Linked DNA regions of Homo sapiens. The protein of the gene in region 1 purifies or fractionates together with the protein of each later gene. This does not show direct contact. Each region holds a gene or a part of one and is shown in the gene's direction. Other genes may lie near its edges. The genes, in order: G3BP2, STAU1, TRMT1L, HDLBP, WDR36, CCNT2 and NUP88.

The links.
Region 2: the proteins of G3BP2 (region 1) and STAU1 purify together in Homo sapiens (affinity purification with mass spectrometry; 3 studies listed by BioGRID and IntAct, with this or other methods). This does not show direct contact.
Region 3: the proteins of G3BP2 (region 1) and TRMT1L purify together in Homo sapiens (affinity purification with mass spectrometry; one large-scale study listed by BioGRID and IntAct). This does not show direct contact.
Region 4: the proteins of G3BP2 (region 1) and HDLBP purify together in Homo sapiens (affinity purification with mass spectrometry; 2 studies listed by BioGRID and IntAct, with this or other methods). This does not show direct contact.
Region 5: the proteins of G3BP2 (region 1) and WDR36 purify together in Homo sapiens (affinity purification with mass spectrometry; 2 studies listed by BioGRID and IntAct, with this or other methods). This does not show direct contact.
Region 6: the proteins of G3BP2 (region 1) and CCNT2 purify together in Homo sapiens (affinity purification with mass spectrometry, with the first as the bait; one large-scale study listed by BioGRID). This does not show direct contact.
Region 7: the proteins of G3BP2 (region 1) and NUP88 purify together in Homo sapiens (affinity purification with mass spectrometry; 2 studies listed by BioGRID and IntAct, with this or other methods). This does not show direct contact.

Annotation. Positions count from the first base shown.
Region 1 is NC_000004.12:75,666,130-75,670,448, reverse strand, and holds part of G3BP2 (ras GTPase-activating protein-binding protein 2), read left to right. Parts: intron 1-4,319.
Region 2 is NC_000020.11:49,115,023-49,119,341, reverse strand, and holds part of STAU1 (double-stranded RNA-binding protein Staufen homolog 1), read left to right. Parts: intron 1-933; coding exon 934-1,009; intron 1,010-1,245; coding exon 1,246-1,565; intron 1,566-2,093; coding exon 2,094-2,216; intron 2,217-3,474; coding exon 3,475-3,560; intron 3,561-4,319. UniProt on the Homo sapiens protein: Binds double-stranded RNA (regardless of the sequence) and tubulin.
Region 3 is NC_000001.11:185,150,180-185,154,498, reverse strand, and holds part of TRMT1L (tRNA (guanine(27)-N(2))-dimethyltransferase), read left to right. Parts: intron 1-2,563; coding exon 2,564-2,674; intron 2,675-4,006; coding exon 4,007-4,120; intron 4,121-4,319. UniProt on the Homo sapiens protein: Specifically dimethylates a single guanine residue at position 27 of tRNA(Tyr) using S-adenosyl-L-methionine as donor of the methyl groups. Dimethylation at position 27 of tRNA(Tyr) is required for efficient translation of tyrosine codons.
Region 4 is NC_000002.12:241,305,429-241,309,747, reverse strand, and holds part of HDLBP (vigilin), read left to right. Parts: intron 1-4,319. UniProt on the Homo sapiens protein: Appears to play a role in cell sterol metabolism. It may function to protect cells from over-accumulation of cholesterol.
Region 5 is NC_000005.10:111,094,866-111,099,184, forward strand, and holds part of WDR36 (WD repeat-containing protein 36), read left to right. Parts: intron 1-54; coding exon 55-82; intron 83-2,213; coding exon 2,214-2,314; intron 2,315-3,856; coding exon 3,857-3,974; intron 3,975-4,319. UniProt on the Homo sapiens protein: Part of the small subunit (SSU) processome, first precursor of the small eukaryotic ribosomal subunit.
Region 6 is NC_000002.12:134,917,388-134,921,621, forward strand, and holds the start of CCNT2 (cyclin-T2), read left to right. Parts: upstream 1-1,434; 5' UTR 1,435-1,467; coding exon 1,468-1,625; intron 1,626-2,422; coding exon 2,423-2,504; intron 2,505-4,234. UniProt on the Homo sapiens protein: Regulatory subunit of the cyclin-dependent kinase pair (CDK9/cyclin T) complex, also called positive transcription elongation factor B (P-TEFB), which is proposed to facilitate the transition from abortive to production elongation by phosphorylating the CTD (carboxy-terminal domain) of the large subunit of RNA polymerase II (RNAP II).
Region 7 is NC_000017.11:5,409,286-5,413,604, reverse strand, and holds part of NUP88 (nuclear pore complex protein Nup88), read left to right. Parts: intron 1-2,815; coding exon 2,816-2,902; intron 2,903-4,319. UniProt on the Homo sapiens protein: Component of nuclear pore complex.

The DNA of each region.
Region 1 (4,319 bases):
TTGTACCACTATGATTCTTAGATCTTCTTTGTGAAGCTTTCATTCAATGGTGTACCACAAAAGATTGAAGGTCATTTCTTTAAAAAGGTATAGTGTTCCTTAGATTGTTTAAGTTACTTCAAACAAAAACCATCTGGAATTTCAGAAAGTTCCAGTATTAATATGCATTTAGCTGTTGGAAATGGATATAGTCCATGGTTCAATTAAAATAAATAAACCTGACTAGTTTGAGCCCAGCTATGAGTGAGGGACTCCAGAGGGGAAAGGGGTAAGTATCCTATAGTGGAGATAAGCTGTGTCTTAGCACCCACATAACCTTTGGTAACAGTATCTGGTAAAGAGAACTGCCTCCTATTACTAGAGGTCTTATTCTTTTTATAATAACTAATACCAAGTACTTACAACTCAGCTCACTGCAACCTCCGCCCCCGGGTTCAAGCGATTCTCCTGCTTCAGCCTCCTGAGTAGCTGGGATTACAGGCGCCCGCCACTGCACACGGCTAACTTTTTTGTGTTTTTAGTAGAGATGGGTTTTGCCATGTTGGTCAGGCTGGTCTCGAACTCCTGACCTCAGGTGATCCACCCATCTCGGCCTCCCGAAGTGCTAGAATTACAGGCGTGAGCCACTGCACCCGGCCTCTTTTTCCTTTTGTAGTTTCTGGTACATACATAGTAGCCATAAAATAAATGTTGAAATGAATTTATTTTGTATAACCCATTGACTCAGCTTGTGGATGGGAATGAATGAAGTAAGACAAAGGCGCAGAGAGTGAAATTGCAGAGAATAATATTAGGTGATTAAAATATTTGTATAGAATTTGATACAGGGATGAGAAAGTATAGTAGGAGATAAATTTGAAAGGTTGGTTATGACATTGAATGTCAGACTGGATTTCTGTGTAGGGCCTTAGATGCCAAACTGAATGCAGGTGTTTGGATTTTACTCAGTACAGTATATACTACACGTGATACAGGGGCTTGAAAGACTTTTGAAGAATAAAAGGTCTGAACAGTGGGAGTGAAAAGGAGGGCACAAATTCCACCTTCTGAATTGTAAGGATTTCACAGTTTAAGTGGCAAAGCTAAAGGGGAGAAAGTCACGACTGAGCTTTCAAGTTGAGAAGATTATGACACTTTTAACAGAAATAAGGAAATAGCTTTCTTTGGTGCATGCGTGTATTGGGACATATGTGGGTCATGTCTAGGTGTTCAGTATGTGGTGACAAATGTAAAATTTGAACTTATGGTATAGACTAGATACACGTTTAGGTAGACATGAGACCAGAAGCTGAAATTGCCAGGTTAGAAGACAGAACCTTGAGAAATTCTGCGTTTGGATGAGAAGGAAAATTTGCCTTATAGAACTCTAGAAGAGTTAGGAGGAGGTAGTCAACATTGATAATGCAGATGGGTGGAGGATTGAGAAGTCATTCGATTATTGAGAAGAATTGTGATGTTTCCAGAGAATTGCATTCAAAGGAGAGCTGAGTTATAATATTTGAGAGGGGAATAGAAGATGAAGACAGGTGTACAGTTAGTAATTTAGGGCAGAGCATGATCAATAAACTGCTATGATAAAGGCCAAAAGTGCTTTAAGAGTTAATAGAGAAGAGTTATATTCTGTTGAGGAATTCAGTAGGAGTAGAAAGATTTTCAAGGGGACAGGATTTCTGCTGGGCCCAGATAAATGCATAGGGTTTCAATCATTGCAGATAGGAAGGTGTGAGATGAGTATTGGAGGAGAAGTCAAAAGTCCTGCTTCTTGTTAACAGACTTTTAGGATCTTAGTGTTGGAATGGCCTAATCTTACTTTTTTGGATGTATGGACTCTACTATGTTTGTGCCAAACCATTCAGTTAGTCTCTGGAATACCTGTAGTGACTGGCTACTTGTTAAGTAGCTCTATTTGATATTTGGACAACTCGCGTTATTCTTGTGTTATGTTTCACCCAAATCTACCTTCTTATAATTTCCATTCACTATATTCAATTAGCAATCAACTCATTTTAGATATTACATCTAAATTAATGTAGCCTAAGATTGATTGTTTTGGAGGCAGCCCCATTATAGTAGTGATTCACTGAACTTTAAATGGTAAACAAAAAACCTAAATGTTTCTTACCTAAAAGGTGACGTTTTAGTCAAAGTTTGAGGAAAGGAGAGTGATAACTTTGGTTTTTACGTTATTTTGAAACTGAGGAAATATAAGTTCATTGTAGGATAATGAAGCTCAATGTGACTTTCTTTTCTAATCTGCATGTATGTCTACCAATGCTCCACTCCCTCTCAGTGTGTATTATCTACCAATACTCCACTCTCTCTCAATGTGTATAATTAATAGATTCAGAAAATATGGTGACAAATATAGAGCAATTTTCCGTGAGAGCTGAAGTGCATGTGCTTCAGGAATTAGGCAAATGCAGAGGAAACATTTTAAGAAACAGGAATGAATAAAATATTCTGATGAAGATTCACTGGGATTTTAGGTGCGATAGGCAGAGTTGGAGAGTAAAAAGCCTCTAAACTATACTGGATAATGTTTTCGGTTTTTTGTTTTTTGAGACAGAGTTTCGCTCTTGTTGCCCAGGCTGAAGTGCAAGGGTGTGATCTCAGCTTACTGCAACCTTTGCCTCTGAGTTCAAGCAATTCTGCTGCCTTAGCCTCCTGAGTAGCTGGGACTATAGGCGCGTACCACCAGGCCTGGCTAATTTTTTGTATTTTTAGTAGAGACGGGCTTTCACTGTGTTAGCCAGGATGGTCTCGATCTCCTGACCTTGTGATCCTCCTGCCATTGCCTCCCAAAGTGCTGGGAAGTAGGCATGAGCCACTGCGCCTGGCCTTGGATAATGTTTTCATTTGACAAGTAAAAGACGGATTTGTTCATGAGAGAGCTTTGACTGTGTATAGAGCTAATGTATCAGATAAAATTTTACACTGTGCATTCCTGTGTGAGATTCTTCACATTTTCAGGTGTCATTGGAAGAAGTGGAGTGTGATATATTGTATTTAACTTTTTCTAAAAAGGTTGTTAGGTGAGGCTAACAACCACCTTATTGAAGATGGTAGTTATCTTTGAAGGTGCTAATCTAAGAACTTTCTAAAGATTTCTTTTTGTGTATAAGTATCCTTTAATCTTGGCTATCTTTTTTTTTTTTTTTTTAAACAGTGTCTCACTCCTGTTACCCAGGTTTGAGTGCGGTGGTGCCATCTTGGCTCGCTGCAGCCTTGACTTCCCGGGCTCAGGCATTCCTCCCACCTCAGCTTCCCGAGTAGCTGGAGCTACGCTTGCACACTACCACGCCCCGCTAATTTTTTGTATTTTTTAGTAGAGACGGGGTTTTGCCATGTTGCCTGGGCTGGTCTCAAACACCTGAGCTCAAGCGATTCACCCACTTTGGCCTCCCAAAATATTGGGATTACAGGTGTGAGCCACTGCACCAGGCCTTCTTGGCTATCTTTGTAGAACTGTATAGTCTTGTAGGCTTGACCGGGGATTTCTTCTCAATTTGTAAACTAGGAAATCGAGATCCAGTAAGGTCATGAGTTTTTCATGGCCATGGATAAGATAGTTGAAACCTTTTACTCCCATATTCAGAATTTTGTTTCGTTTTGTTAACTTTTTTTAAGAAATGGAAGGTCCCAGATCTAGAAATGGATTACCTGTAAGATGATTTGCTATGAATAATAAAAATGGCACAATTCTTTCTTCTTGTAATCACTTTTATTCTGAAAGTGTAATTTGGCTTTTTTCCTTTTTCTCAACCTTCTTACGTACACTGCATGAATTATAAATACGAACTTTATATTACTTACTCAATTTTCATAGTCTTATTTCCTGCAATACCCAAACCACGTTGTTTGATGGTTGATCTCTAGTAGTCATTTTCTGGTTGATTTCTATCAATTATATTTTGGCTCTCTAAATTCTGAGTCACTTCAAATCGGAGTTATGGTTAAAGAAGTAACTGATGTAATTAGTTGAAACACTGTTCTCTCAGTAAATCTTGATTTTGTTTTACCATTCCTTTGGGAGCCTCCTCTGCACCTTAAAAGCTCAGCTTTCTATATAACCTGTTATATGCCTGTTTAGATTTTACCAGATTAGCATTGCCTTACTTATTTACCATTTGAAGTTAACTTTTCAAGTTACTGCCTTCCAATAGTTCTAAGTATTAATTTATTGAGTATTGATTAATCAAATATTACTTCTACTGCCCTTCCCTGTCTCTCTGTTCTAAATTGATGGTATGTTGGCCATTATACTTCAGTGACCATGTAGATAGTGGGCAATTTGAAGCTTTTTTTGAACCTTGTTACAA
Region 2 (4,319 bases), on another chromosome or scaffold:
GCCAGGTATGGTGGCTTGTACCTGTAGCCCGAGCTACAAGGCTGAGATGGGAGGATTGAGCCTTGGAAGGTCAAGGCTGCAGTGAGCTGTGATCATGCCACTGCACTCAGCCTGGGCGACAGACCCTGTCTCAACAACAACAAAAAAGGAACGTAAAAAGAAAAATTCGTGTCTGCCAGAAGTGGTAAGCAGGACCTCAGCAAAAGCCATGGCTGACCTTCTTCTTTCCCATCACTGAATGGTCCTGGTGAGATAAACTTGAAATCAGGCCTGATTCATTCATGTCTGCCAGTCATATTGACAGAAACAGCATCAGTCATGGCCAGTTAATAACTGACTGGGACCCCAGATACCACCAGTATAGATCTTAGACTTGGCTTTAGGGTTTTTCATTTCAGAATCTTGTAGGACATTCAGAGTGTCCTTTGTTACTTCTTAGAAAGGTGATGTTGTGTTAGACAAAATTCTTAGGTAATAACATTTTCCCCGTAAGGGTGTTAATTTTGGAATGTCACCTTATTTTTTAATTGGATATCAGCTCCAGGAAATATTCTTGATTTATTTGTTTAGCTTCAGTCTGAAAGCTTCTTTCCCCACCTTGGTGGGCTCTACCGTCTAGCATCTCTGCTCTTTCTGGTTAAATGCTTCCCGTCTTCCTGTGGGTGCAGAGTGCAGCTCAGCATTCACAGGTTAGTGCACTTTGTTAGATGCTCTTTGTGGGCAGGGGTGTGGGCAGGAGGGTGCATTAGGAGAAGGAGGCAGGCTCTGCCCAGGTGTCTGTCAGGGTGCCAGTGGTCAGGTGGGGCAGGGTTTTTCTGCCGATTGCCACAGTTATTGCTGACTGGACTTTGTGTAGATTTAGACAGCAGGAGCTAATTTTTCAGTGATCTGATTTATGCTCATGGCCTTTTTTTTTTCTTCTTCTTTTTTAAGACACCCATAAAGAAACCAGGGGATGGAAGAAAAGTAACCTTTTTTGAACCTGGCTCTGGGGATGAAAATGGGACTAGTAAGTGTGATCTTAATATCGTCTTCCTCTGAACGTGATTCTGGGATTTGCATGGGTCCTGAATAACAGCAGGAGCCCAGCCAGTGAGGTCCCGCATGCAAAGTGTCTTTATCATTCCCTGATTCCCTGCGCTGCCATGCGTGCCAAGGGGAGGGCCAGCGTGGGGTTTGATGGTGTCATTGCGTTTTTCCAGGCTGTGGATGTGGATTCGTGTTTACCGTGTATGTCCCTCCCAGGTAATAAAGAGGATGAGTTCAGGATGCCTTATCTAAGTCATCAGCAGCTGCCTGCTGGAATTCTTCCCATGGTGCCCGAGGTCGCCCAGGCTGTAGGAGTTAGTCAAGGACATCACACCAAAGATTTTACCAGGGCAGCTCCGAATCCTGCCAAGGCCACGGTAACTGCCATGATAGCCCGAGAGTTGTTGTATGGGGGCACCTCGCCCACAGCCGAGACCATTTTAAAGAATAACATCTCTTCAGGCCACGTACCCCATGGACCTCTCACGAGACCCTCTGAGCAACTGGACTATCTTTCCAGAGTCCAGGGATTCCAGGTAACTGTCTGGCCTGAGCTGTGATGGCTGTGCCTCAGGACAGTCATCTTTTGGCTTCTCTCAGAAAATGAACTTTGAACTTTGTACTTTTTTCTTAAATCAAGTTCTGTCCAGGGATGGGCTGGGGAGCAGTGATGGAAGGGTAGGAGGTATAGAAGTATTGTAAGCATATGTGGTAAGAGAAATATCTTTATCCTTTGGTAGTAAGATTTCAACATGCAAGCCAACCCTAAAAGCTTCTAACCACTAGCAGTGGTTGTAAATTTGGATTTCAAAGAACAGACTCATCGTGCTGACACTTTCTGTCTGGTAGGAAAGGATATGGCTTCTCCCAGTCTTGGGCTTCTGAGCAGACACCTAGGTTCCTGGAAGGTTCTGGGCTGACAGGGCAGGTGTTAGTATGGCCACAGTGGGGCTGAGTTGGAAAAAAGAGCTGGTGATCTTGCTTGTGGGGCCTGGAGCTGCAGCCCTCCAGCCCACTCATACTTGCTGTTCCCTACCTAGCCTCAGCTCTCTTTTCCCCCTTAGGTTGAATACAAAGACTTCCCCAAAAACAACAAGAACGAATTTGTATCTCTTATCAATTGCTCCTCTCAGCCACCTCTGATCAGCCATGGTATCGGCAAGGATGTGGAGTCCTGCCATGATATGGTACGTCACACCTTGGGTGAGGGATTGGGGTGTTGTGTGTTTATGTGGAGCCTGCCTTGGTTCAGCTTGTTACTAGCCTGAGGAAGATGGGAGAAAGATTGTCCCATAGACCTTGAGAGCAATGAATCGTTTGATAGTGTTCATATTTTTGAAGACTTTTTGTCATAGCTGATTGGATCGATTTCTCACTCTTGATCAGAACTCATCAGCTTTAGCCCACCTTTCCCTTCCTTTTCCCTGCTGGCCTGGAGGGGCAACTGGGATCCTGCAGCTCACCCAGAGACTGCACTCACTTCATCTCTCACCAGAACAAGGAATTGCAGGTCCACGTTCTGGCAGCTGTAAAAACCACTTGCTTTGGTCTTCTGTTCAGATGAAATTATTGTTATAAGAAAACTGAGAAAAGGAATTGATCAGATCAACAAATCTAAGTAAACTGTGATGTATTCACTTGATGGGATGTCATGCATGCATGAAATTAATGTCTCTGGGTGGGGTGTGGTGGCTCACACTAATCCCAGCACTGCGGGAGGCTGAGGCAGGCGGATCACCTGAGCTCAGGAGTTCAAGACCAGCCTGGCCAACGTGGTGAAACCCCATCTCTACTAAAAATACAAAAAAAAATTAGCCAGGTGTGGTGGTGGGTGCCTGTAATCCCAGCTACTTGGGAGGCCAAGGCAGGAGAATCGCTTGAACCCGGGAGGTGGAGGTTGCAGTGAGCCAAGATTGCACTACTGCACTCCAGCCTGGGCAGCTGGGTGAGACTGCGTTTCAAAACAAAACAGTGTCTCCGAAGATAATGTAATAAGAAGAAAAATACATGATAGGCCGGGTGTGGAGGCTCACACCTGTAATTCCAGCACTTTGGGAGGCCAAGGTGGAAGGATCGCTTGAGCCTAGGAGTTTGAGACCAGCCTGGGCAACTTAGTGAGACCCTGTCTCTATAGAAAGAAAAATACATGATAGATTTTTGTTAGAAAGCAGGATATAACATTTATACAGTCTGGTTACCACATGGTTAAAAATACTAGAAGGAAAAATATAACATTTTCAGAGGTTATGATTCAGTGAGGTAACTGAATATTTTTTAATTTGTATTTTAAATTAAAAATTCAAAGTTTTATTTAGTAGTACCAGAGTTGAAGAAGTTGCCACCTGTTTGCTGGGCAGCAGGAACTCTCTTGCCTGCCTGACCAGTGTATTATGCTGTGGTCCCAAGCGGTGGCTGTGGCTTTACCCTTCTTTCCATCCCCACTAGGCTGCGCTGAACATCTTAAAGTTGCTGTCTGAGTTGGACCAACAAAGTACAGAGATGCCAAGAACAGGAAACGGACCAATGTCTGTGTGAGTGCACTGATGAAGGGGAAGGCGCTGATGATGGGGAGGCTGCCCCTCGTTTGTGTTGAGTTTACACTATCTGCTGACTCAGCGGGGAAATATTTGCCTGAGTTACTTTCTGGCCCTTTTGCCTGAAAGTTTTCCAGATTCTCTGGGCAGAAAGCTCTACTTTTAAAAGACATTTTGAGGCTGGGAACAGCGGCTCACACCTGTAATCCCAGCACTTTGGGTGGCCAAGGCAGGTGGATCATGAGGTGTCAGGTGTTTAAGACCAGCCTGGCCAAGATGGTGAAACCCTGTCTCTACTAAAAATACAAAAATTAGCCAGGTGTGGTGGCAGGCACCTGTAATCCCAGCTACTTGGGAGGCCGAGGCAGAGAACTGCTTAAAACCTGGGAGGCGGAGGTTGCAGTGAGCCGACATAGCGCCACTGCACTCCAGCCTGGGCGACAGAGCAAGACTCCGTCCCAAAAAAAAACAAAAAAACCTTTTTGAGTTGGTCATACCTTCACATGGTCAGAACTCTGCATTATTTTACAAGGTACAATCTTCCCCTCGGACAGCCCCCATCCCATCCCTCCTATTCTCCCCACCGCCTCCCCCATAGATCACATTTTTACTAGTTTCTCCTGTATCTTTCCTGTATGTTTCTTTATACAAATATAGACATATATTTCTTCCCTCATTTTCTTCCTTTCCCCCCACAGAGATAAGTACACACACTCTCCTTGCGTATTTTACTTACTGGCATACCCTGGGAAAACT
Region 3 (4,319 bases), on another chromosome or scaffold:
GCTGTCTGACCTAGCAAAAGATTTTTATGAAACATGAAGAAGTTTTACCTGTTTATAGAAATTATATCTCATTATAACTCATTTGACCAGTATCTGATATAGGAAATTAACCAATATTGTTTGTTGCTTCTTTAAAAATGAGGTGAATAACCAGGCACCAGCCTATACTCCCAGCTACTCAGGAGGCTGAGGCAGGAGGATTGCTTGAGCCCAGGAGTTTGAGGCTGCAGTGAGCTATGATTGAGCCACTACATTCCATGGAGGCTGGGTGACAGAGCAAGACCCATCTTTAAATAATAATAATATGAAAAATTACCTTTTAATAAATTTGAGCAGGAGTGTCTGATAGTGCTGAATTGGATTCCAAAATTATTGACACAGTGTGCTACTGCATCCAAAAAGTCTAACAATTTTTTTAACTTCTTGTTTAACAAACTTTAGTGCCTCCTATCTGCAAGCTACTGCATTAGGCACTTAGCCATCAGAAAGATGAACAAGAAATAGGCCTTGTCTTCTGTTGATTATTTGTGGGGAAAGCGAACAAGGACACAAATTATACAAATGGGTAAACGAACTGATAGTGAAGCTCGGAGAGGAGTAGTCAAGAAGGTGCTAATATCAAGAATTGAATTTTAAAGTCTCAAGGTTTTAAATTGTATAACCTAATAACATAATATTAGAGAGCCCTGTGGTTTATCCCACCATCTCCTGTCTCCTTGGGCTCTTTACATATCAGTTTCTCCTAATCTTAATATATATTCAGTCCCCACTTTGTAATTGTTCCTTTCTCTTGGAATGCACATATATTCAGGTTCCCCATACTTAAAAAAAAGCAAGTTACAGTCTGATTCATTTCCTTTTTTATACCGTCAAACTTCTCAAAAAAAGAAAAACCTAATTTTCTGTATTTCCTTTCCCCTTCCAATTCTGTTTCTACTCTGAAACACCTCCCTGAACCTGTTTTCTTAAAGGTCACCAGATGTGCTTTCTTGATCTCTACAACTGTTTGTGATATTCAGTGTTGAACGTTTTGCGTTTATAGACTCTTCTCCCTTGGCTTCTGCATTACCTTGATTCCCCTTACCATTTATTCTTTCTGAATCTACATTCCTGATTCCTTCTACTTAATTTTTCTTATAAATATCTACATCTCTCATACCTCACTACCAGATTATATCTATCTATAATAATCAGTAGCGGGTTCAGCAACAGGTAGGGAATGTATCCCCTACCCACCCCAGTCAGAACATGTTAAACTTATTTTAGACTTATTCATGTATTTCCAAATTTAATTTAATTTGAAGAGTGTGTAATGCTTGAGAAACCTGAAAATGCATTAGTGGGACAAATATGTAATGATTGAGAAATTTGAAATGCATTAGAATTAAAATATAAATCACATTTTAAAATTAATTTTACATAGCCTAGTTGGTTGTTTGAAATCAGTCATAACTAGGTAAGACTGGGTCTTGGCTTTTTCTCTTATTTTTCACACTTTTTTTCTTAGGCTTTCTTATTTATTCTCATAGTTTCACCTAATGTGTTACTTACGATTTGTATCTCTAGAATCCCTCCTGAGCTCCAAAAACAAATTGCCAGCTGCCTATTATACATTATTGCTGGAATACTGTACCAGTAGTACATCAAACACACCATGTCAAAAACTAAATTTTCCTTTCTCTTTTCCCCTTCCTTTCTGCCATAAGAGTTTCTTCTGTCTTGTTTGCTTAATATACCATTATTCTCAACCACATAAACTCAAAATCTTGGAATCATCTTTGATTTTATCCTTCACCTTTACTTCTCATATCCCAAGTTCTGTTGCTTATTTTTTTAACCTTCTATTCTGTCCCTTCCCATTGCTAATTTTCTCTGTTACTGATCTTTGGTATTACTGGCAGAGATAGCCTCCTGAAACTCATTCAGATCGTATAATTCACTTCCTCAAAAACCTGCAGAGACTTACCATTATTTGAAGAATAAAGTTCAAACTAACTTGCGTAGAATTTATGTTTTCCTTGGTCTGTACTGCATCTTCAGCTGCACATACTTCTACTGACTCCATCCCCCCAAACATACCACATTCCAGCCAAGGGTGGGGTGGCATGGTTGTATGTTTTCTACACATGGATTTGTTCATGAGGTTACTTCAGTTCATGAGGCCAGTTAGCAAATCTCTACTTAATAGTGTTCATTTCATCCTATCTCATATGATAGTTAGAAGTTGACATATTGCCTTCTCCCACCTGATTGAAAGTTCTTTGAAGATAGAAAACATGACTTAACGTTTCCTTCAGTATTTTGTATAGGACAGAAACATTTTTCATAGAATTATTTTGACTAATTAGATAAAATTTTAAAACTAAGTTTATACAGTGGGGTCTCCCCCCAACTTTTCATTCTAAAGCACACTTGTTATTTTATAAACCGAGTTGTGGCAGTATTCCCCATCTAGGTCCATAACACTGTGTTATAGGAAATAAACTTCTATACGATGTGATCAATAAAAATGGAACTAGAATACAAACTGTTAAAGCATAATCTTCTCAATTTTTTTTTTCAGAGAGACACATCTCAATTCAAAGGCAGCTTGCTGATCTAGAGAATTTAGCTTTTGTAACTGATGGAAATTTTGACTCTGCCAGCTCATTGAACTCAGATAATCTTGATGCAGGTATTTCCATGTTTGGGTTTTTTTTTTTTCTTAGTTTCTAATAATTTATCATCTTTCAATTCACAAAAATAAGTTTGGTAAGAGTAGACTTGTTTATTCTTACTGAACTAGAACAGTGGTAAAATACAGTTTTTTATTCAGGAAATTGGCAACCGCTTATGTGCAAAGTTGCTATGGAAATAAGTTATTTTACAACTCCTCAAGAAAATTATAATTTCACGGATGTCTAGGGGCTGTCTATTCGGCAAGTTAGGAATGGCATTTGGCTACAAGTAACAGAGGTCCCAAAAAACAGTGTCTTAAGAGGTTAATATTCTGTCAGGTAAATGAAGTCCCAAGATAGGCAATTTAGGGCTGGTATGAGAGTTCCACGTTATCAGTGCCCCACACTGCTCTCTTTCTGCTCTACTCTCCTTAGTGTTTGGTTTGTATCCTCAAGATCGCTGACTGCGTGGTTTTTTTGAAGTAGACAGTGTAAAAATAAAAATTGTACCTATACTCTATTGTACTGTATGTGAAAGATATTTGTTGGGTTAAAAATTATTAATATGAGCTGACAGGTATGTAGGTATAAGAGAAAAAAGAAAAAAATTACTAAATGAGTTATTAATGATTCTTGCTGTATATTTTATTGCTTTAAACCTGAATTTGAAATTTAATTCTTTCATCTATACTATCAAAGTTTTTATTTGAGATACATTATATTTCTAATTAAATAAGACATTTTTATGATACATAATCTTTTTGAGAATATGTTAATAAAGAAGGCAGAACTTGTAAATTCAGTAATGGATACGGTGGCTGTAACTATGCGCCCCGTCTCAGAACAGCGGTTATATCAAATCCCATCTATTCCTTCCACTTCCTTCTTCCATTTTTCTAACTCCACATGTTAACTGTTTTTGTTGTTGCCAGTTTAGTAGAGGAATACCACAGCACATACTTTTGCTCTTTGTCCAATCCCTGTCCTTTTGGGAGTGTAACTGCTGTCCTTTCAGCTGTCCAAAATACAGAGTGATGCTCTCAGTGGCAGAAAATTTGGCCGGAAGGATGTCATACAGTTTATCACTTCTTCAACCTTTGTTCCCAGTAACGACAAATGCATCCACTAGCTACAGAGAGGGAAATTTTAGGGTGAAAAAACAATCACTGATCATGTGCTGCAACAATTACTGTTAACTGTCTCCTGGGTCAAGAATAATGACTTCTCCCTAAAGTTAAGAAAGACTTTAAGAAGTAGGAGGGGGAGCCCCCATTAACCTCTTTGTAGTTGAATCCAGGCATTAATAACTAGAATATTCTGTTGTTTATTGATTCTTTTTTCTTTTTAAGGCAACAGACAGGCTTGTCCATTGTGCCCTAAGGAAAAATTCAGAGCTTGTAATAGCCATAAGCTTCGTCGTCACCTCCAGAATTTACACTGGAAAGTCTCAGTTGAATTTGAAGGTTAGTATTTTTGTGCTTGCAAAGAAGTAATATATATGAAATTCAACATTTATTACCAGTTTTGGCATTTTTATCATGAGTATAATCAAATATTTTCAGTTTAAAATGTGAGGGGTTTAATGCCCTCATTTCTAATGTATTTAATAAAACACCATATAGCTTTATAGGCAGTAGAGATCTATATGACACAGTTTAGTTG
Region 4 (4,319 bases), on another chromosome or scaffold:
CCCAGTCCAAAGATTCTACTTCCCTTTGCAGACAGAAAAGCGATACCTTTTTGCCAGGATAGGAGAGGGACTGTGCAGGTTGGCTCTGTGTGGCTGTGCAGAGTTGTGGGGTGCATCTTAGGGATCTTCGTGCCTTTTAAACCTATCAGCCAACTCTGTTTTTAATTCAGGTCTCCTGGCTTCCAGTCATATTGCCAGTTGGCCTTCCCCATTGCCGATACAGGATTCAGCCCTTTTAGGTCTGTTTCCAGTTTCTAGCCTCCAGTATTTTAATGTTCTTATCTCTATTCTTATTCTTTGCTTTCGTGATTTGTATCTTAAAAAAAGAAAAAATCGTTTACTATCATTTTAGTGGTGCTTCACGAAGTAGTGTAAATGTATTGATCTGACAACGGCTCGTGCTGGAGACACTGTTCCAGGAAGTGGGACACAGTAAGGAAAATGCAAGTGTGTTCTCCTGCACTTTCACGGAGGTCACGTTTTGGTAAGCGGTGTCAGGCAGTCAGCAGACCAGCAGATATGCAGTATGTCCAATGTGGACAAGAAGAAAGGAGGAAAATAAAGTATCGAGGGGAGTGGAGTGGGGGACACAGTGGCAGTTTGGCATAGTGGGGAGGCCTTGCTGATTGAGCGACAGTTGATTCAAACTTGAGATGAGCAAACAAGCCATGGGCAGCGATCTGGGGAAGAGCGTTATAAGAGGAATGGACAGGAGGTGAAAAGCACGGGGGCAGGACTGTGTTGTGCACGTTAGAGGAATGTGGAACACCAGTTATTAGACCAGTGTGGAGCAGGACCAGAGGGTGTAGGAGACGGGCAGGTCAGGGAAGAAGCCGGGGCTCCTAGCAGTCGGATCTTGATGCCTTTGGAGAGCTGGAGCAGAGTGACCCAGTACTGGTGGTGGATCGTGGTGAAGTGACCATGGGCCACACCATTCACGACATTTCTTACTTTTCCTGTCACCTGTAGGAGGCAAGTATTGTTGTTATCACAGGTCGAGGTAGACCCTGAGGCAAAGGCTAGAGTTAGTGGTTTGGCTCCAGTTTGTGCCTTCAGCTACTTCACTGCTTCCCTAACCTGGCCTTGTCAGTCAGCCTCAGTCTACCATCTACCCAGGTCTGCATACCCCGCAAAACAGTATACACTTTGACGCTTTTCTGCAAGCACAATTACCTTTTGGGGGAGCCCTTCTCTTAAAGCAGAGTAGGTTAATGTTTGTGAATGAAACGGAACTTTGGCAGGCTGAGGTGTCTCAGGTCATCAGCTTACGTTGTCTACTGTGTGACTAATTGAGGCAAAAGATGTCCTTTTTAATAGTATTTTCTCATCACTTTTGCCTGGGTGCCCTTTAGGAATGTTATTTTTGGCATACAACTTGAGTTTCACTTAAATTTATAATTCTTTCTGTTCATTCCTACTGCTCTGTTGCCCAGATGTGGATTTTGCTTTGTCTCACAAGCGTTGCTGAAACACTGGTAGAAAGGTGGACGACGGATTGGTTGTGATTAGTTTGATCTTCACAGTACAGAAATTCAAAAGGTCAATAAGCTCAACAAGATTGCTGTCTCACTGATGATCAGAGTTGCCATTAAAATCGTATTTCCCGCACATCAGGCTGGAAAAAAGAATAAACATGATCATTTTAGTTGTCCTCAAAGGAGAAGAGGACAGGTATTCTGTAATCAGGTGTTGTGAGTGTAACTAGTTAAACTCTTTGGGAGGTGGGCAGTTTTACCTTGGCAATATCTATCAATGCATTGCCTGTCATCATATAATTCCATTTCCAATTCAATTTATCCTGTGGGGGTAGAGGCCCAAGTGAGCAGAGGATGTTCTTTCCAGCATTGTTTATAATCGCAAAAAAAAAAAAAAATTAGTTCAAGGGTCCTATCAGTAGGGGATTTATTAAGGTATGTTTACTCCACTCAACATGTAGTTGTTAACAAATGAGGTAAATTTGTATTTGGTACTCGGAAAGATGGCCATGGTGTCTTTTCAAATGAAAATAAGTGTAGCAGATGGTGAAAGAATGCATGTAAGATCCTATTTTTATTTAAATCATGTATTAAAATTATAATTAAAGTATAATTAAAATTACAGTTTTGAAGATACAGTTTAGAATATATTTTTTGGTAAAGCCTCATGGGGGGGTTGCCAGTTTTTACATTGTTTTGTTGAGTTATCTTTTAGAATATTTTTAAAGCTAAAAAATCAAGTTCCTTGGTAGACCATCACTACAGCAAGCCCACTGCAGTATTAATCTATTAATACTGTCAATGTTAATTAAACCATTATTCGTGTAGCCCCTACCCATCCCATTCCAGTCTCTCAGGAGGCTTAGCTGTATCCCAGAGACCCCAGTGCTATGACCGCAGGTCTCTCCTGGGGCAGGAAGAGGTAAGAAGTGGCTGATGTCAAAGTCAACAGTCAGCAAGTGGCGTGAGCAGTCTCGATGAATTCTTTCAAATAAGCGTTTTTCAGATCCACTCTAGGGCTTGCCTTTTCCCTCTGTTGTAGTCTCAGAAGTTCTTGAGGTAGACCTTGTGAGACCTGCAGCAGTACTTGCTGTCTTAGGTACAGAAGGCAGGATATTGATTATTTCTCCCTGACTCAACAAAGAGTTGAGATGTTTATCCAGGTTAGGATGACACTGCCCCCCTGTCCCCCCCGCCCCCCAAAAAAGAAACAAAAATGAAAGGATGGTGTCTTTGACTGTACTGGGAGTCAGGAGACCTCACTTCAATTTTGGGCTTTTCCTCGTTTTTTTTTTTTTTTTGAATAGGTTCAGAGCTACTCCCTGGACCTGTTCTTATCAGCCTTATGACTTGGGGACTTGGGATACTTTTTTTTTTTTTTTTAATTTATTGAGACAGAGTCTCTCCCTGTCACCCAGGCTGGAGTATGACAGCATGATCTCCGCTCACTGCAACTTCCGCCTCCCGGGTTCAAGCAATTCTCCTGCCTCAGCCTCCTGAGTAGCTGGGACTACAGGCATGCACAATAGTAGAGATAGGGTTTTGCCGTGTTGGCCAGGCTGGTCTCGAATTCCTGACCTCAAATGATCTGCCAGCCTCGGCCTCCCAATGAAGTGCTGTGATAATAGGCATGAGCCACTGCTCCCAGCCTGACTTGGGGTACTTTTTGACCTGTAGGATTTCAGCTCCTTTCTTTTAAAAATAAGAAAGCTGAGGCCAGGCGCAGTGGCTCACGCCTGTAGTCCCAGCACTTTGGGAGGCTGAGGCGGGCAGATCACCTGAGGTCAGGAGTTCGAGACTGGCCTGACCAACATGGAGAAGCCCCGTCTCTACTAAAAATACAAAACTAGCCGGGCGTGGTGGCTCATGCCTGTAATCCCAGCTGTGGGAGGCTGAGGCAGGAGAATTGCCTGAACCTGGGAGGCAGAGGTTGCAGTGAGCCGAGATCACGCCATTGCACTCCAGCCAGGGCAACAAGAACAAGACTCCATCTCAAAAAAAAAAAGCTGAATCTCTGAGTGGGTTTTTCATTTTTCATTTTTTTTTTTAAACAGATGCCTCAGAACCTGGGTAACTCAGTTTATCAGAAATTCAGTTTTCAAGTTTGGAAGGATAACACTTGGAGCTGGTAGTCACTCATAAAACATCTGATTTTGTGATCACGTTTAAGAATCCATGAATGATATAAAAATCCTCACCTATTAAAACTTTTTGGCCGGGCGCGGTGACTCACACCTGTCATCCCAGCACTTTGGGAGGCTGAGGTGGGTGGATCACGAGGTCAGGAGATCGAGACCATCCTGGCTAACACGGTGAGACCCCGTCTCTACTAAAAATACAAAAAATTAGTTGAGCATGGTGGCGGATGCCTGTAGTCCCAGCTACTCGGGAGGCTGAGGCAGGAGAATGGCGTGAACCCGGGAGGCGGAACTTTGCAGTGAGCCGAGATCACGCCACTGCACTCCAGCCTGGGCGACAGAGCGAGACTCCATCTCAAAAAAAAAAAAAAAAACAAATAAACAACTTTGTATTCATTGCTTCCTATATACTAGTCATCACGCTATTTATTTCTAGCAGTGGTTATCACCAGGGTGATTTTTGTTACCCAGGGCACATCTGGCAGTGTCCAGAGACCTTTGTGGTTGTCGTGACCTACAATCATCTGGTGGTTGTGGCCAGAGATGCTTACATCCTGTGGTACACAGGGCAGCCCCCGCAACAGAAGTATTCGACTCAAAATGTCAGCAGCGCTGAGGTTGAGGAGCCCTGCTGTAAAGGGTCAGTCCTTGAAAGGGCTCTAGGGTATAGCCATCACAGGCCCCGTTTTTTTGGTTGGAAAGAGTA
Region 5 (4,319 bases), on another chromosome or scaffold:
TTATTATGATTATGTTTGTTAATGAAAATTTAACCTTTTTTCTTTTTTAAACAGGTTCAGAAACTTAGTCTGGTTGCAGTAAGTAAGTATGGACTTTATTCTGAATTTATGCACATCTAAACTTTTTTTTTATTTTGACATAAATGTGAGACTTACAGAGCATATAAGGAAGCCAAGGTAACATGTATGTCTTATAAACTTACATTATCAGCAACAAAAAAGGGTGCCAGGATAAATCATGTTTTGCTTTTAGTTGTTATGTATCTTTATTTTCTTTAATCTGGAACTGTTCTTTAGACTTTCTTTGTGCTTCATGACATTGACACATTGACATTTTTGAAGAGTACAGGCTCATTTAGAATGTCCTTCAGTTTGAGTTTTTTTGACATTTCTTCAGGATTAGATTTAGGTTGTACCCCTTGGGAGGAATCACAGTGAATTGTATCAGAAGGCACATGCTGTTAGTTGGTTCTGTTCCTGGTAGTGATTGGTTAGGAGGCTCTATTTTTAAGTTAGTGTTTTGTCATTTGTAACGAATAAGTATCTTTTGGTAGTATGCACTGGGACTATGTAAATATCTTAGTACTCTTCAAAGTTATTACCTGCTGCTTTTATATTTTATGATGATACTTGCCTGAATCAGTTATTAGTATGATGGTTGCCAAATGCATGTTGATTATCCTTAATCCAAAAATTTGAAACCCAAAATGCTCCTAAGTCTGAAACTTTTTGAGAGCCAACATGACGTTAACAGGGAAATATTCATTGGAACATTTCCGATTTCAGATTTTCAGATTAGGAACATTCACCTGGTTATACATATAGTCCAAAATCCAAAAAAATCCGGAATCTGAAACACTTCTGGTCTCAAACATTTCAGATAAAGCATAGTCAGCCTATAGTGATTTTCTTTTGCCATCATTCCTTCTACTGTAAGGAGAAGTTTTCCCTTTTCTCACATTTTGGTATTTCTTTCCAATGGAAGGGTTTTTTTTTAAACTATCTAATAGAATAAAACATTTCTCAGGGCAGAGAGGTACTTGTTTTACCATCAAATATGGTTCTTGTGAGAGAAACAGAAGACCTACAAGGACTGTAATGTGTATGTGTATTAAACTTATATTTTAATAATAGATTAGAAGGCAGAAGAAAGGCATTGGAACTTAAGTTGAATACAAAAGTGAATGATAAACTTATAAAACAGGGTTATGCAAACAAATACTAATATGGAATTTGCAGCATGAAAAGTACAACAATCCTGTGTCTACTAACCCTCCTGCCCCAAAAGAGGAAATGAAAAGGTCAGTGTGACCAGGATACTGAGAGAAGAATCATATGTCACGTGAGAAATGCTAAAGATTGATAGGCATATTTCCCTTGGAGAAGACTGTAGAAACAATATTGTCTTTAAATGTTTTAGGAATAGGCATATAGAATACCATATGTAATATTTTTGGGTTGGTCCAAAGGGTAGAGTTAGAGATTTAGATTTTGAGTTACTTTTAAAATTTTTCTGGAGTTATTAGTGAACTTGATGTTCCAGAAGATACTCACATGGGTTAGGCATGTGGCTCACGCCTGTAATCCCAGCACTTTGGAAGGCCGAGGTGGGCAGATCACCTGAGGTCAGGAGTTCAAGACCAGCCTGTCTAACATGGCAAAACCCTGTCTCTTCTAAAAATACAAAAATTAGCCGGGTGTGGTGGTGCACTCCTATAATCCCAGCTACTTGGGAGGCTGAGGCAGGAGAATCAGTTAAACCTGGGAGGCGGATGTTGCAGTGTGCCAAGATTGCATCACTGCACTCCAGCCTGAGTGACACAGCAAGACTCCGTCTCTCAAAAAAAAGAAAAAAAAAAAGATGTTCACGTGAAGACTGGATGACTATCTGTCAGAGCTTTGTGTTTCAAATGACAGTTTTTTCCAAATAACCTCAAAAAGCTTGTTTTCATTTCTCTAGGATTATGTTTTTATTTCTGCAAATCCTAGACATTCTCTTAGGGAAGGACAAGGTGATTTCCTATCCTTAGTTTGATAGTTACTATTAGATATCTAAAATATTTTAGTTAAAATTTTATACACTGATTCTCAACTTTGATCTTTATTTATATATTTTTTTAAATTATAGCCATGAAAAATGTTATATGTATACTTGAGGTTTCTCTTTAACATCTTAAAAATCCCTGTTTCTTTCATTTTGTATTTTCTGCTAGGTAATTCTGTTCCACAGGATATCTGCTGTATGGCAGCTGATGGCAGATTAGTCTTTGCTGCTTATGGAAATGTTTTCTCTGCATTTGCCCGTAATAAAGAGGTTGGTATCGCTAAACTACTTGTTTGTCAGTCAGTATTTGTTTGTCATGATAGTGGAGGGAACTTTAATTTTGTCATTCTTTACCCAGCACACTCTGGAACTATACAGTATTCTTTTTTTTCTAATGTATATTCAGTTTTCTGGAGGAAGATAAATTTTCAGAAAAGGCTTACTTAAAACTGGTGCTTTACTTCAGTTTCTTTGCCAGAGATGAATATCAAAATTACTTGGAGACCTTCTTCAAAATTTTTTATGCCGTTAGTTCCCATCTCAGGAGTTTTCTATTTTGTATATTTGTTGAGATAGGACATAATGTGTATTATTAAGTGTAGTTTTAAAATACTTTCCTAGAAAATTCATATTTGCACCACCACTTTATGTGGATTGGTTATTTATTATGTATAACTTAGCTTATAACTCTTTTTCTAAAAATCAGATGCCTGTTCGCTGTTTAGAGAAAGCTAGATTCTATGTTTTCTCCACTGCTAAGGAAAGATCTTTTCTGGTCTAAATCTACCAGTTGGTTTCTGAATTTGTCCTGGAACAACTAGCTTGAGAAGTGACCTGGCCTTAATGGTCTAGAATGAAAGGAAATGTAGGAATGGGGGTACAAAGATAGCCAAATGATAGTATCACTGTACTTGTCAGGGACTTGGAGTGAGGTGGTTCCCACAGTCTTTCATCATCACTTCCTGTGGCAGAGGAAGGTAACTTATCTGTAGAGTTCTTTAATGGAAGGTGTTCAGATTTTTAGAATTGGAAAAAATGTTCATTTTTGTATTGTTGTTTATAGTTTTCCCAGGGAGATATATGTGATTTACATGAGGAGACTTTATCCTATATGTATAACCTATATGTGGTTCAGATGTGGAGACTTTAATAAAGGACCTTTATGCACAGGTGTGGTCAGGGTTAGGGGAACAAAATAGGGGTGGGGAGGCGTCAGACACTGTCAACTGTAGGAAGTTGTTACCACCCCTAAGGCCAAAGGGCCAAGGAGAGGAAACAGTGTTACTGGAATCTAGTGAGAACTGAAACCATGGAGAAGGGGCTATACTTATGGAGGGATCAGCTACTGTAAGGATCTCTGTCAAAGCAGAAGGGTATGGGGAAGAAGACCCTATATCCCCCTTTCCCATCTCATCTGAAAGCCAGTTGGTGATGGAGTCTTTAGAGATCAGCCTTCTGGAATATACCATCTCGCTAGGATATATGTAGTTGCACTGATTGAATTGGGTGAGGGAACTAGGTGTGTGTGCATGCCTCCTCTCTAACCCAAGATGGAAGGCAGAGCCTCAGAGGTCTCATTTCTTTGTTCTTAATGGACAGTTTACTTCCTTATTGTTGAACTGGCTGAGGGAGCAGATGAACATGCCTGGTCCCTTAATATTTATGTGTTCATCCTAACCTTGAATAATCAAAAGTTGGGGTACATTTCTTAACAGAAGCATCTCAGGATTAGCATGTTTTTGGGATAATATGAATAATATGACATGATGACTGAGTAATAATATGAAATTCTTTTAAACTTCGATGTTTTAGATAGTACATACCTTTAAGGGTCATAAGGCAGAAATCCATTTCTTGCAACCCTTTGGAGACCACATTATCTCTGTTGATACTGATGGCATTCTTATTATTTGGCACATATATTCAGAAGGTAAGAGTTAACTCATTTATTTGCTTTATCTTAGGGTAGTATGTGTTTAATTAAAATTTAAAATCTATGTAAACATCTATGCCAGAGATTTTGCCTGTAAATAGTAAGAAATTAAAAAAATCAAAAATCTTTAACGTGTAAGAAAAAAAGTTCTAAGTAAGAAAGAGATAAACAACTTTAGCAAGTTAACTACTTATAAACTGTTTAATGTGCTTACCTCAACTAATGTATTTTCCATTGCAGTTCTCCAACTTTAATGATTTGTTGTATTGTTTTCCCTGTGGAGTGAATATTGATGTATTTTCATACCTGAGTAATTCTTGGTTTGTATTTTCACCTTTTAGT
Region 6 (4,234 bases), on another chromosome or scaffold:
CTGTTACAAAAACTGCCTACTATAATCAATATTCTTGTGCAATGCAGTATGCTGAGCGTGGGAGCCCCATAACAATCACTTGCCTCCATGGTCTTTGGCAAATAGATATTACTTTATTTTTTATTTTCGAGACAAGGTCTTGCACTATCGCCCAAGCTGGGGTGCAGCAGCGAGATCTAGCTCACCGCAGCCTCCACCTCCTGGGCTCAAGCCATCCTCCCACTTCAGCCTCGGGAGTAGCTGGGACTACAGGCGCGCCACCAAACCTGGCTAATTTTTGTATTTTTGGTAGAGACGGGGTATCGCCATGTTGCCCTTGCCCTCGAACTCCTGACCTCAAGTGATCGGCCCACTGGACCTCCCCAAGTGCTGAGATTACAGGCGTGAGCCACCGTGCCCGGCCTCCAAATAGTTAAGACTTTAAACTTAGAAACCCTATTCACAACACAAACTCCGAGTGAAGCTCAGTGGCATTTTCTTACAGGAAGAAATACAGGAGTTAATCAACAGGTATGTGGGATGTTCCCACATCAAATCCTAAAGATAAAATTTTAACTCAGTTCCTCCTGCACTATCTGATTCTCCCCAACCTTGTCTCGCAGAAACCACAGCGCAGCCTGAAAACACGCCCCGTCTAGATTCAACACCTCATTTAGAAATTCAATTTCTCGTTGCTAGTTGGATAGCGTTTGCCAAGTAATTTGAAAAAATAAAAATAAACCAAGTGGTCTGGGATTTAAACAAGATAATGTAGGGTGAAAAAAGCACTCAGGTGCGGACAGCCATGGAGCGTGACTTCCTGTGCACTCTTTCCCCGCCAGCTCAACGCCAGAGCCGCGCGCTAGGCGGAGACTGTTGGTGGCGGAGGCCGGAGTCGCACGCCTACGAGACTGCGCGGACCCGCCCAAAAGGAAAATGGAAGTAGTGGCGTGAGGCTGCGACAGTGAAGGTTATTTTTCTCTTTTTAAAGGGCCGCTAGACCTCCCGTCTAAAGGAAGCGCCCGACGGGCCTCCGAAGTACACGCCCAGGCCCCCACAGCGCAGCCGCCCGACCGCCTCTCTTCACACCGGCCAGAGTCCACCCTCTCCCACTTTCCCCTCCCCTCCCCTCCCCGCCCCTTCCCTCCCCACCCCTTCGCCCCGCCAACCCTAGACCCGGCATGCGCTGCGCCGACCTTTTCCTTCCGAGCCGACCTCTCCACCTTCGGCGCCTCCCAATGACAAGCGGCGCGGAGCATTGTGGTCCCGTGCGCAAGAGCGAGGCCGAGGGCAGAAAAAGAAAGCAAAAGACTAGGGCGAGTCGGTAGAGCGGGCCCCGCGCATGCGCAAGGGCGGAGGCGGTGGTGAAAAAGGGTGGTGCGTGGTCTACGGCGAGCGGAGTGGGGCGGGGTCGCGCGCCTTGGCGGGGAGTCCGCGAGCCAGGAGGGGCGGGGGGTGAATGAAGGAGCGGGCGGAGGAGGAAGTGTCATGGCGTCGGGCCGTGGAGCTTCTTCTCGCTGGTTCTTTACTCGGGAACAGCTGGAGAACACGCCGAGCCGCCGCTGCGGAGTGGAGGCGGATAAAGAGCTCTCGTGCCGCCAGCAGGCGGCCAACCTCATCCAGGAGATGGGACAGCGTCTCAATGTGTATCCTTTTCTGTTCGCCGCCGCTCACGCCCTGTTTCCCTTGCCCGGTCGCCGGGCCTGGTGCCCCGCGAACATGGCGCCGCCGGCCTCGGCCTTCGCTGGGCCTCGGCGCCGCGGTCAGGGAAGTAATGTTCCGGCTCGGGCAGTCGCGAGGGGTCAGCAGAGGAAGGGAGGAGGAGATAGGACCCCAGGAATGCGGGCCAGGAGCCTGCGTTGTGTAATCTGTTTGGGGCAGCGCGTGGTGGTGGCGGCGGGGGTTGGGAGTGTGGCTCAGGCGAAAGAGGAATTTTAGGGATTATTGCAGAAAAGGGGCGGCTCCCTGGACTTGTCCCTGACCCCGAAGGGTTTGAGAGGTAGGAGGGTTAGCGATGCTGAAAGGCCTAAGTGTTTGCCGCAGCCTTTCCCGGCTCTCGTCGCCGGCTTGATGGCGGCTCTCTTCTACCTTGGGAGCGTACTGGAGTTCTTTATGTTCTTGGCGTGGTTTTGTATGGGTGTGTGCGCGCGCGTTTCAACTGTTTCATTTTGAGTTTAGTTAGTCGTAGCCATTGATAAATAGTTCCAGGGCCCTCAGCGCTGTTAGAGTGAAAAGATCAGCAGTTCTTATTCCCATTTATTTGGCGTCAAGCCTATTCTCTTCCTGCCGCCCCACCCCCCGCGGGCATTTATTTCTTTATTTCCAGTTTGGGGTTTGGATTTGAATGGGAGGTATTGGAAAAGAACCTGGGAATTTTCCATCAAAATTGTTCTGGGAATGAGATCTTGCTTTTGTCAGATATTTCCTAAATATTACGTTCCAGCTCTCAGCTTACAATAAACACTGCGATTGTTTATATGCACAGGTTTTATATGCACCATTCTTTCACCAAATTCAACAAAAATGTAAGTACTAGTTGTCTGTTTTTACTGTCCGCAAATTTGAGGGTAAATCGATACGCAGAAAAAAAGTTGGTCATTGCGTTGTTGGATTTAGTGTTCTGAATTAACGGTAAACGTATATCACGTGATAAATATTTTGCTTCAGATGCGGTGTTTTTGTGTTTTTAAAATTTATGATGAATTAAACTGCAAGGCACTGTTAAGCTCTGCCAGGCCTTTTAAGCTAAAAAAGAAAAACATTTATTTCTTTACAGAGTTATTACATAGGTTTTCTTCATTTAAATTCTATACTTAACATTTGAATAATTTCAGTAGTGATGTACAGTGGAATTGGGCAAGCCTGGTCGTTCTGTGATACATCTTAATTATGTTGGACTCATTGTTTAAAAGACTGTCAATTGAGATTAAATTAATTATGACATTCTTTTGAAAGAGCTATTTAGTAGAAATAATTCATTTCTTCATTTGCTAACCTAGTAATTTCTTAAGATGTCAACGTTTCTGTTTATCACGTTAGCATCAGTTGTCTCCTAAAATTTTGGGTGATTCAAACGTCCACTCTTGCTTCAGATATAGTACGTCAGGAGTATGTTTATGTATTATTAGTAAAATTTACACCTGAATATTAAGGTATATAACCTGTAAACCTTGACAAATAGAGTAATGGCATTTTGTTGAAATGTTAATTTCATTTATGAAAGATACGAGTTTGGTGTATGTTGAGTAACACGCATACTGTGTTGTGTGTGTTAAAGAAAATTGCATATTGTTTAGAAATGTTTAACTCTGCTTTAATTCTGTCTTTATTTGTTACTTTTTATCATAGTTATTTTTAGAATATTATTCTGAAAGGTATGTGTAGAAAAATGGACCAAAGAAGACTTTCTGCTATTTGTGGATAGTCATTAGGACTTATTTGCTAAGAAAACAATCCTAGGAAAGATCCTCAGAATATTATTTTTGAAATGGAAGGAAAGGCTTCATGGTTTAGATTGAGTCCTACCTTAATCTCTTCGGATCCTATTTCATTTATCAGTTTGGCATACAGGTTTATCTTGGACCACAAGTATTTTAATATACATTTTGATCTCTTGAAGACTTCTTCTATTTCTTTTTTAAATCTGCATAATTCTTGCTCTGTTGCTTCTAGTTTCCTAGTTATTTCTTGTGCATAACATTTAGGTCAGTGATAGTGTTATGGAAGAGAAAGGAAGCCATTGGTGATAACATTTAGATTAAGGGAATTCATTATAAATTGTCTCCAAAGGCAGTAGTGAACTAATGAATGTTAATATAAATTTGGCATTCCTTACGTAACCCTGGATAATAATGGTAGAAATTACAAATCAAAATAGTTCTGACTATTCTTTATATGGCTACAGATGTCCCATTTGCCGAATCAGGCATACTTTTGTACTTCCAATAAATGATCTAGCCACAAGTCTTCACTTCTTTTATTTATTAATTTTTTTTTTATTTTTTTGAGACAGAGTCTCACTCTGTCACCCAAGCTGGAGTACAGTGGCGCTGTCACAGCTCACCACAACCTCTGCCTCCCTGGTTCAAGCTATTCACCTGCCTCAGCCTCCTGAGTAGCTGGGACTACAGGTGTGTGCCACCACTCCCGGCTAATTTTTGTATTTTTAGTAGAGAGGGGGTTTCACCATGTTGGCCAGGCCGGTCTTGAGCTCCTGACCTCAGGTGATCCGTCCGCCTCGGCCTCCCAAAGTGCT
Region 7 (4,319 bases), on another chromosome or scaffold:
ATCTTTTAAATTGAGCAGGTTTGATTCAATAGTTTCTAACGCCCCTTCCAAGCTTTGCACTCTATGATTAAATGCCCTAATGCTACGTAGATTTCTACTCTATTATCAGCTAACTTTCTGGATCGGCCTTATGTAAAAAGTTATTGGGGGGACTCAGCAGAGGTACAGATACCTTCAGTTTTATTTTTCGTAATCACTGCTTTTAACTGTGCTCTACTAAATCTTCCTTCACTGCTGAATGACTCACCCCTTAATGATGTCTTATACAGATCCCCATAGCTTTCTCGTTACTTCTAGTTATGAAAACAGTGTGTCCAGTTTAAAACTCATCTTGGCTGGTTGCAGTGGCTCACACCTGTAATCCCAGCACTTTGGGAGGCCGAGGTGGGAGGATCATTTGAGCCCCTGAGTTCGAGACCAATGTGGGCAATACAGTGAGATCCTGTCTCTGCAAAAAAAATTAGCTGGGCATAATGGCATGTGCCGGTAGTCCCAGCTACTCAGGAGACTGAGGTAGGAAGATTGCAGCCTGGGTGACAGAGTAAAACCCTGTCTAAAGAAAATAAGAATGTCGAAAGCTATTTGATCTCAAATCTTTCACAACTATGTCCTGGCCCTTTTGTAGGTCAGACCTGTGTTTTGTGGGATCAGAAGTGATTGGAGAGTGTGCGGTCTGCTCTTTCACTCTTCCTGTTATCCCAGCACTTTGGAACATAGGGTGAAGTGTAAGGAATGGGCTGCCCCCTCCTTCCTCCAAATCTAACTCCTTCAGTGTGGGGTAGGGGAGTGGGACAGGTGAGGTAGAGATCTTACCGAACTGGTAGCCTGTGAGTGATGGGGAAGTATGCCTGATCTTGTTTGAATCTCGTTCCATCTGTCACTAGTGAACTCTGTTGATGTGGTAGTCTCTGCATAGATGGTGTGTTTGTGTGTGTGTATGTGGGGGGGTGGGGTGGTGTTGGAGGGCAGTGTTGAACTTCCAGCTCCCCCCATCACTGAGGAGCTCTGGCTCCCATTGGCTCCTGTCAGTTCTCTATGCCCTGAATCTTCTCTCAAGATGGGGTACAGTATACTTTATCTGCAGGGTGTGTGTTCCAAGACCCCCCAGTGAATGCCTGAAACTGTAGATAGTACTGAACGTGATACGTGTGTATTGCTATGTTTTTTCGATCTTATAACTGAGACAGCTACTAAGTGACTAAGGGGCATTCAGCTAGGAAATGCACCAGTCTCCCTTATTACAGGTACCTCCACATCTGGCTGTTTCCTAGAGCCTTCCCTGCCCACCCATTTGGCTTTAGAGTTCAGGGCAGAGAAAGAGGAGAGGGAAAATCTTCCCATTACAAACATTATACTGTACTCCTAAGGAATCTTTGACATCCTCTCTTCTTAGTCTTCCTTTTATATGCTATGATGGAAAAGGAGATGGTGGGAAGATAGCATAGGTACAGTTCTTAAGCCCCAAAGGAAGTATCTGGCCCCAAATATTGAAGGTTCTTTTTTAAAATATGTGGTATTTAACACTTCTGTTTTCCTAAGCTTTGGAGATTTTGGGCAGTTTCAGAGCAAAAGGAAATTTTCACCGAATGCCCTGTTGCACCTTCTTTTTCTTTCACTGTTCCCCAGTACAACATTATTGCCTAGTATTTATGTGTATTTTGAAGTTAGTAACGCTTGTAGGAACCTAGGAAGACTGTAATAAATGTGTATTCAAATGGATCAAGTTATCATTAAAAATTTATTAAATACTTAATGTGGCATTTTATTGATATTGGAAGAAACCAAGTTAAAAAATTCTTAGTGGCGTCAGACAAAATAAGTGATTATAAGGGACACTGGATTTCTAAAATGACATTACTGGCCTTTTGAAAATTCCCTTTTTCACAATAGCCTTATATGCTGTGAAATGTAGGTTACTTTAAATTAAAATAATTTTGGTTAAAAAAATTCAGTATTATACTTTCCCTTGAAAATAGAGATGATACGATACTGGGTTTGTTTGTTTGGTTTTTTTTTTTTTTTTTGAAATGGAGTCTCGCTCTGTCGCCCAGGCTGGAGTGCAGTGGCGTGATCTTGGCTCACTCCAGCCTCCAGCTCACCGCAACCTCCACCTCCCAGGTTCAAGTGATTCTCCTGCCTCAGCCTCCCGAGTAGCTGGGATTACAGGTGTGTGCCACCACACCCAAATAATTTTTGTATTTTTAGTAGAGACGGGGTTTCATCATGTTGGCCAGGCTGGTCACGAACTCCTGACCTCAAGTGATCTGCTCACCTCGGCCTCCCAAAGTGCTAGGATTACAGGTGTGAGCCACCGTGCTTGGCCAATATTGGGTTTTTATATAACAAACACATAAGTAGATTTGCAGGCTAAATATCACTCACTCTGTCAGCCAGTTGGCATATAAAGAATAAGATACAGTTCTTTCTCTGGTGGGATTTGGTGTCCAATAGGCAGAGATAGATGTGTGTAGTTGAAGGAAAACTGGCAAGCTTAGGGGCAATAGTGAGATGACTGGACAAGGCGAGTATAGCTAAGGGCTCAGGACGGAAGTGACAGAGGTGCGATGTTATGGAATAGGCTGTTAAAGGGTATTGGTAAGGATAGAGAACATTTCTTCAGGCCCCAATGAAACTCCCTTATGTAGTTAAAGAATAAATGAACTAGACTACTTTGCAACAGCAAGATTTTTGCAAAGAAATAGTTGTGATAAGTGTTAGAAAATTCTCAAGAACTGACTAGATGGAGAGGAAAGTGCAGTTTTGGGAAATGAAAACAGAATTTTAAGTGCTGGTTTTCTTCTCTTTTGGTTGCTAGAATTTACTCACTACGTGAGCCGCAGACACCCACTAACGTGATAATACTTTCAGAAGCCGAAGAGGAAAGTCTAGTACTCAATAAAGGGTAAGTTTTTATTTGAGTCTTGAAATGGTTTTTTAATTAGCTTATTGGGATTATAAATGCAATTTTAACAGGTTGCAAGGTTTTTCAGAGGTGACTAGCATGCTTTTGGTAATGTGAGAAGTAAGTGTATTTTTAGTAGAACAGGGATTCGTCGTGTTGGCCAGGCTGGTCTGGAACTCCTAGGCTCAAGTGATCCTGCTCGTCTCAGCCTCCCCAAAGTGCTGGAATTACAGGCCTGAGCCACCATTCATTTCTTTATCACCTTTCTATGTGATAAAGAAACTAAGATAATATCTTGCATTGATGTTTGCTCTCTCAACTATATGAAATTGTGATTTCATTTTAACCATATTTGTTAACTTTGTATTGAACTAGAATCTTCCTGAATAACTACAGTAAATTTTAAATATAAAAACAGCATGGTTTTATGATTTGCCTTCTTGATATACATGTAATGTATATTTGCTGTAGAAAATTGAGAAAAATAGATCAAAGTATTAGGAAGAAAATGAAAATCTTTGTAATCTCCTATAGCTATAGCCTGTTTCAATACAGCACCCAAAGTTTAATCACATCATTCTACTTTAATCTAAGTTTAATCAGATCAGTTTAATCAGATCATTCTACTTCCCTGCTCTCCATACCCCATTGATTTCCCAGAGTCTTTACCTATAAAGGGTCCACAGGTATGCCACCTGATTGCCTTTCCAGCTTCATTCCTCCCTCTGTGCCCTGGCTCTCTGGGCTCCAGGCACCTTGGCCTCCTTGCCATTCCACAGACATTAAGCACTTCTACCTTAGAGCATTTGCTCTCCACCTCAACTGCTCCTTCCCTAGTTAACCACAGACTTGCTCTCTTACTTCCTTCAGATCTTTGCTCAAATATCTTATCAGAGTCTTTCCTATACCAAGTAGTCTAAAGTAGCACCTCCATCAATACCCTCTTACCCTACTTTATTTTTCATGATATTTTCTGAGTTTATGTTCCATCTTTATTTCTTCTCTTTTTGTGGTATTTCTCTCTCTAGAGGGCAGGACATTTGTTTAATTCACTGACATATTCCCAGACCCTAGAAAAGTACCTGGCACAGAGTAGGTGCTTTGCGAGTATTTGTAGAACTTACGGATCCTGCTGCTCAGAGACAACTGTTGATGTTTTCATGTGTTTTCCTGTTTCCTTTTTGCATTTATGTGTGTGTATATAATAAATTTTTGCTATTTGTATATCTGTGTATTTAAACTATTTAAGATGAGAGTAGAACCAAATAATTTTATGGCCAGCTTTTTTCACTTAATTTCATGAGAATTTTTTTTTTTTTTTTTTTTTTGAGACGGAGTTTCGCTCTTGTCGCCCAGGCTGGAGTGCAATGGCACAATCTCGGCTCACTGCAACCTCCGCCTCCCAGGTTCAAGCAAT